Linked DNA regions of Homo sapiens. The protein of the gene in region 1 purifies or fractionates together with the protein of each later gene. This does not show direct contact. Each region holds a gene or a part of one and is shown on either strand. Other genes may lie near its edges.

Evidence for each region.
Region 2: the proteins of QSER1 (region 1) and ROBO2 fractionate together in Homo sapiens (co-fractionation; one large-scale study listed by BioGRID). This does not show direct contact.

What each region holds. Positions count from the first base shown.
Region 1 is NC_000011.10:32,972,769-32,976,599, reverse strand, and holds part of QSER1 (glutamine and serine-rich protein 1), read right to left. Parts: intron 3,204-3,831; coding exon 3,051-3,203; intron 1,353-3,050; coding exon 1,257-1,352; coding exon of another isoform or gene 1,044-1,256; exon of another isoform or gene 970-1,043; intron 267-969; coding exon 126-266; 3' UTR 1-125. UniProt on the Homo sapiens protein: Plays an essential role in the protection and maintenance of transcriptional and developmental programs.
Region 2 is NC_000003.12:77,620,501-77,624,331, reverse strand, and holds part of ROBO2 (roundabout homolog 2 isoform 23 precursor), read right to left. Parts: intron 2,106-3,831; coding exon 1,900-2,105; intron 1-1,899. UniProt on the Homo sapiens protein: Receptor for SLIT2, and probably SLIT1, which are thought to act as molecular guidance cue in cellular migration, including axonal navigation at the ventral midline of the neural tube and projection of axons to different regions during neuronal development.

The DNA.
Region 1 (3,831 bases):
ATGACAGTTCCATGATGGAAGCGGCCGGCCTGCAGAAGGCCACTACTTGACATCTGATTATCTTTGACCACCCCATATCTGCCATTTCATTAGTGCTATAAAAAGATGGGATTTTTGTGGAAAAGTCAGGAACATTTCTGCTGTACATGATTTAGAAGTTCTCCAAATTTTTCAAAGAGGTCCTCCACCCATTTTACATTTTTCATACAAAGTTGAACAATTTCCTCCTGTCCTAAATCTTCATTTTTTTTCTGCACCGAAGAAATCTAAAAAAAGAAAATCGCCAAATTAGCTTATACTTATCACATCATATTTAAGTTCAACTACAAGTACTGGTATTTTATTTTTTTCTTAATCCTATCCATGGAGAATGATTATTTCAGCTAAATTTGGGTGAGATCTCATCCTCTCATCTTTGGCTCCAAGGTGGCAGAAAGGAAGGCTAGAAAAAGTACTTCAGACTTTCTCCATTTCTTCCAATTACGTTAAAAGTCAAATGACAAATTTTGGAGTCGATTCTGCATTTTAGAGCATTGTAAAAACAGTGAACCTATGTTGCATCACCATCTTTGCTTTCTCTTTTGCTATATAAAGGTTAGATTTATGAGCATCTTTCCATACCAGACTACTGTCAAACACATTAGATATAGCCTTGGACCCTTTATAATGAAAAGAAGTGATAGTGCTGGTCAAATAAGGTAGTATTGTCTACAACCATTTAGCATGGCTGTGGAAATTAATGCTTATATCCCATCCATGAGGTGATATTTTGTCATGTATAATCTCTGAACAACTTAAAAGCTACAATTAAATTTTAACTTTCAGTTTTTCATGCCAAGGCACAAAACCCCACTTCTCTGCAATTAAGTGGGATAAGGCCATTCTAAGTAATAAGTAAGGCAGTGAGATGTCAAAGCAGTGACTGAAGTGAATTAAAGCAAGATCATCATACACTGTGAGAGAACAAAATGCAATAAAACATCATTTATTATGGCGATGTAAAGCAAGCACCAACAGCTTCAAAACATTACCAATTATAGCTCCTACAAGAGGTGGTGAGGCTCGGGTAAATCTGAGCACAAAACATAGCAGAGAGACTCAGAACAATAAATCAAGTCATTATTTACAGAATACATAGACAAAATACATACACACATGTATTTCACAACTCTCTTTAAAACACTCCAAAATACTATGGCTAGAGTCTCCTTAACATTCTGAAAAACATTTTTTTTAAGTAAATGAGAAGAAATTACCTCATCCTTACATATCAGATAAACATGGTACTTATAATGATGGAGTGAATGATACAAAGAATACAACTGTATTTTCTCTGGATCGACAGCAAACTCCTATAAAAAGAAAAAAGTTTATAGATACATTTCATGGAGTATCTGAGCTAAGAACACTTTGAGGAAAATACTAGATCAAAAGTCTCAATGGCAATGTTGAAAATGACATATATGGGTAGGTATTCAGTTGGGTTAATATGGAGAGACTTATTCAAAATAAGAATTTAAATTATATTTTAAAATCTTATTCTTTATCCTGCATATAAATATGCATTATTGAAAAAACTTAAGCATTATAGGAAAATTTAAACAATAAACATATGAGATGATTTATAAAATAAAAGCTCCCTATAATCTCCTGCTTCAGAGCTAAACAAAGCTAATGGCATGTTATATATTTTTTAATGTTTTCCCCCAGGTATAACATGTATGTTAATAACACTAATTTTGTAATGAGAAGGGAATCACACTATACATATTGTCTAGCAACTTTTCTTCTTTCTTCCAACGTGTTTTTTGACCTAACTAATAATTGGCTATCTTTTCATTTAGTACATATAGCTGTCCCTCCCCATCCTCCCCAAATACAAACTATATGAGGGTAAGGACTTTTAACCAGTTTTCACTGTTGTATCTCTAGTACTTAGAACTGTACTTGGCATACTATAGGCACTCAAAAAAATTTTTCTGAAAGAATGAACAAATCTATCTCTTCTTTATAAAAAGCACGTAGTATGACATTACGTGGCTCTTCATTTATCTAACCTCACACTGGTGGTACATAATTGGATTGCTCTTACAAACAATTCCACAATGAGCAAAGGTATGTATTTTTATGCATTTCTGAATCTATTTCTACAGAATACTTTTTTTTTTTTTTTTGAGACAGTGTCTCATTCTGTCACCCAGGCTGGAGTGCAGGGGTGCAATCACAGCTCACTGCAGTCTCAATTCCCTGGACTCAAGCGATCCTCCCACTCAGCTTCTCAAGTAGCTAGGACTACAGGTGCATGGCACCATGCCTGGCTAATTTTTTTTTCTCCCCCCAGGGTAGACATGGGGCCTTGCTTTGTTGCCAAGACTGGTCTCGAACACCTGGACTCAAGTGATCCTCCTGCCTCAGCCTCCCAAAGTGCTGGGATTATAGGCTTGAGCCATTGTGCTTAGCCCTGAATACATTTTTGCTGTGAAGTTGATATGTTGCCAAACTGTTTTCTGAAAAGGTTATAACAATTTATACTATGTTTGAAGATGAACAAATTCCAATTTTAATGACTTTGCAGATATGAAATAAACATTTCATCTTTTTATGGAATGTGTTCTGCACACTTACTTATCTATGTGCATGCATATACAATTAAAAATATACCTATATTACAAGTAATGCATATGTTAATGAGTTTGAATTAGCCATTTCACAATGTACACACATTTCAAAACATTTTGTACATAATATATGCAATTTAAAAAATGAAAAACTACCTACAAATATATAAACATGAGCACGAGATGATTTCTTCCATATTAGTCAATTTAAGAAATTTGTGAGCACATATTATATGCCTGATACTGTGCTATAGAAAAACAATAAACCACCATGCGTCCCTGTTCCTCAGGCCAGTGACGCTTATTCCTACCTGAAAAACCTTCACACTTAATGACAACATAGTAAAATATTTGCTTGTTTCAATGTTTTAAGTAGGAATTGTATTAACAATTGGAAAAGGTATAGTTACATTAATAATCAATTACACTTACTTGTGCAGATTTGGTGGTTGTTTTAGAAGTCCTTAGAGTTTTCTTATTATAGGCTTTGCCATTCATTTTGATTTTAGAAATAGCAGTTCCTCCACTCTTTGCTTTAGAATCTCGAGTAATTATTGTTAGTTCAGGAAAACTTTCCAAAGCATTCTGGAAAACAATGAAGCAAAATAACTGACACCAGAAGAAAACTAACCTAAACTACTTCTAGCTATCTAAAATTTAGAAGTGTGTGTGCACACAAACACCTATTTGCAGAGAGGTGTGTGTGCACACAAACACCTATTTGCAGAGAGGTGTGTGTGTACTGATGGGATATGCATACATATACATACACAGGTTGGGGTTTAAACATGGTCATAAGCTCTTTGCAGCCCTTCCTATTGGATATGTAATCTATTTCCCTTAAATCCCTTAAATCTGAGCCAACTCTATGACCTGCTTATTTAAGCAACAGCACACCACACTGGGAACCCTTAACAGGGCCAAGAGTTCTTTCTAGTAATGTCTCTGGCTTCAAGGCAGGAGAAAGGAAGACATACATGTTTCACTAAAGCCCTACCACTTAAACCACTGCTTGCCCCGTGAAATGTGGCTGGGCCTTGCTATAAAGAAGTCATCTGCCTCTGGTGAAGATGACGACAGAGGAGAAGCGGCACTGTAGTGCTTCTCTGGCTTCACTCTTCTCTTGCTTATTTTGACTGCAAGACAAGTACTTGTAAGATAAGATCCTAAAACAGAGCATGATGGGTTTTTTGACAGTGGTTATGTGGCAAAA
Region 2 (3,831 bases), on another chromosome or scaffold:
CACACACACACTTATAAGCACTTACTCACATACCATAGAAAGCAAATTAAATCTTTGATCACACCTTCTCCACAAAGTTATTGTGGAAGAGAAAGGAAAAAAAAAGTGAGTTTGTATTTGGCTACTTTTGTGTAGAACACAACTTCTTTTACTAAAGAGATGTATTATTCATAGGATAAACTCATCATGGAATACAAACTTAAACACCCTGAGGTTTTTATATATGGCAGTAATTAAGCAGTGAATTCAAGGAGAAAACCAGACTTTTTTTCTCAGCAATAAAAGCTTCATTTGGAATGAACATTACACTAGCTACAGGAGAAATACAGACTGCTTGAGCTGCAGTCACATCAGGCAGCCTAACATGTCACAGGTGAGCATGTAAAAGTGCAAAATGGCATTCTCTTGATTTATAGACGTATTTATCATCTTTGACATTATAATATTTAATAAAAGAACTACACAGACTATAGCTGACTGTTTTTCATCATTATTGCAATTTGTTACTGCATTCCTAATGGAAAAGAGTTCAGTATCATTAGTGAAATATGCAAAAATATGCAGAATTTTACCCTGAAGGAGATTATGCTGGAAATTCAGGCAAAGGGGCTTAACATAATAGTGCACTAATAAGTCAGCTCTCTGCATTTGAAGATTTTAACTTGTGCTCTGTCACCTTCGGTTGGATCTGGATTTCAAATCACAGCGGTGTATCTGCAGCTCTTAAATCTTAATTAGGCTGGCAAGCAGACCAGCCCCTGGATAAGAAGAAAAACTGAAAAATGGGCTCATGCATCACACATTGAGTAATTCAGGGAGGAATACAGAGGAAAATCATAGGCGCTGATGCTGCTTTATCCTGTCATAAACCAGTTCCCATCAGTGTTTGTAGAACTCTAACACATTGTGTAAAATCTGTGAAAGTTTGGAAGCTGTTGGCATAAAAATGAATTAAGCGGGATTGTGGTAAAATATCTCCTAGGATGAAAGATGTCATCACGGTAAATACAGATATGAGTGGTCTTCTGAGAAGACCCAGTGAAATGCAGAGACCAGACTTCAGTTTGTAGTAGCTCGGTCTACACAGTCATGTAAGAGGCATTTTCTTGTGTGTCCAACAGTGTATATCTATTTGAATAGAAAGACTGAATTTTTAGTTTTCTCCAAATTCATTGTGTCCATTTTAGGATTTAAAGTTTTCTTTAAAAAAATTGGTACATTTAAATCCCTGAAAATAGGTTATACCTTAGTCCTGGGATCATCATAGAAGAGTACCAATGCAACTCTTTCGTTTGATGAACAAGGCAAGAGGAAGCCAAAGAAATAAACAGAAAAAATAACTGCATTTCTTGGAAGAGAAGCATTTACTAGATGCAGCAATGTGAAATGCATAAACATATGGTTTATCTCACTACACATTTTCTTCATTCTAAAAATAATACCTTGTGCAACCTTAAAGTGGCTTATTCAGGAGACGTGCTTACTTTCCATCAGTGAATGATTTTACAGAGTGAAATATCAAGAAGCATTTTAAGATTGCATTCACTTCATATGTTATTCCTGATATATATAAAAAAGATCATTTCTAAAAGTCAAGGTTTTTAATGTAATAGACTTGGTTTCCTAGTAGAGTGAACTTCTCATGAAAGCCCTAGATATAATTGAGTTTTCTTTCATGTCTTTAAAGCTTTTTAAAATTCATGAATTTTCTTATCATTTTTGCAGCAAAGCAAAAGTATTTCCAAATCCTTTTTGAATTTTGTATTTAATATTAACACATTTAAAATGTTACAGAAATAGATGGAGTGGAATAAATCTTACAATAAGGAAGTAGTTGACTTTTGATGCATTTTAATGTTACCAATAGGTCAGTTTTTCCTATTAAATTGGTTCCGTTACCTGTCACAGAGCTGTCTAGATTGTCCATGCTGGATCCAGGAGTCTGGTCCAGTGCTCTCAGGGGCCTGGGGATTTCTAAAGCTTCCTCTTCGTCGTCGGCATCATCATCTGCAACATCCGTTTCCAAATCAGAAATCAAGGCTCCAGACACATAACCTAACGGTGGAACTGGAGGCTGTGGAGGTTGATTATTGCTTTGAATGTGCCTAGAATTCAAATGAAATTTAAAAAAGAAAAGCAACTTATTAACATGCAACAAAATCATAATTTTAATTAAATGCATGCTATAGTAACTCATACTGTCTTCTTCCTTTCCATTAACTAATTTAGGAGTTCATAATGCTTTCAGCAGAAACAATGGCTACGAATACGAGCCTCACCAAACAAGGAAAACATAAACCATTAAACTCTTCACTTGGTATTTATAGGATAACACACGGAGAAAAAAAAATACGGGCCCAGTATTTTTGTGAAAAGAAGTTATCTAGAGGGGACTAGGAATATTCGCCACGAGTAACTATTTAAAGTGAATATTTTTCTCCAAAAATATTATACTTTTGTTCTCAGTTTAGTGTCAAAATTCTACTCAGTCTGTGTAACCCATGCTGCCTGCTGGCCCTTATGAAGAAAAGATGTCACATGAGGACCTAATATCCCCTACCTCCCAACCCTGAACACATTTCCCACCCTAGAAGGCTTCCTCCCCACACGATCTCTCTCACATCAAGGCTGGAAGGCTATTTCCACTTTCACTATAACCCAGTTTAGGGTAGGCACAACTAATTTGTGCTCTAGTAGCTATTTATGTATCTGTCTCACCCAACAAAGTCTTAAACTCCTCAAAGGCATAAACAATTCATCTAAGGATTCTCTGTGTTTGGAACACTAGTGTGTTAAATAAACCTTTTGCAATGAATAAATAATTCTAATCTCAACCTTATGAAATAAATAGATCATGCATTATCAACCCTCATTTATTTATTTATTTATTTATTTAATTTTTTGGAGAGAAGGGGTCTTGTTCTGCCACCCAGGATGGAGTGCAGTGATGCGATCATGGCTCACTACAGCCCTGACTTCCCAGGCGTAAGCGATCCTCCTGCCTTGGTCTCCCAAGTAGCTGGCATTACAGGTGTGCTTCACCATGCCCAATTAGTTTTTAAATGTTTTGTAGAGTGGGATTCTCACTATGTTGTCTAGGTTGGTCTGAAACTCCTGGGCTTAAGCAAGCGTCCTGCCTCAGCAACCCAAAGTGCTGGGATTACAGGCATGAGCTATCATGCTTGGCCCAACCTTCTTTAGAATTTATTAAAGTGAAGGTCAAATTTAAGTGACTTGTTTCAAATCAGGTAGCTAACAAAGTGTGAAGCTGGGCAGTAGGGTCCAGTTGATTTGCTTTGAGTCTACTCAGATTTTCTTCTAAACCATAAAATGCTAAATGAAATGAATTTATTGTTATTTGTTACCAGCATTAAAAAGTGAGTGTACTACATGTTTTAACATAGTAAGTATTTTCTTTGCCTTCATATAAAAGGTATTTAAAAGGCTGTGCTATTTAGGTGAGATCTTAAAAAGTACTATGCATTTTTATTGTTGGCTGGTGAATGAAAGACATTAGATTACTTTTCTTTGTCATTTGCATGATTTGGGGAAAATATTTTAATCTTCCCGAATTTGTTTAATATTCCTCTCCCAACTGGCTTCTTGAACTTGTAACCAACCTCAATGTTAACAGGATTCTAGATGTTTCAATGTTAAAAAAATTTCTAATTCTGGAAGCTACCTCAATATCATCAGATCCCAATCTTCAATCTTTAACAGATTAGAAAGTTCAGGCCCCAAGTTAGTATTCAGCATTCCTCACAGCCTGCTAGTTGAAAAATAGGAAGAAATAGCAAGTTTCCTAAGTATTAGTACAGAAAAGCTTGAGGA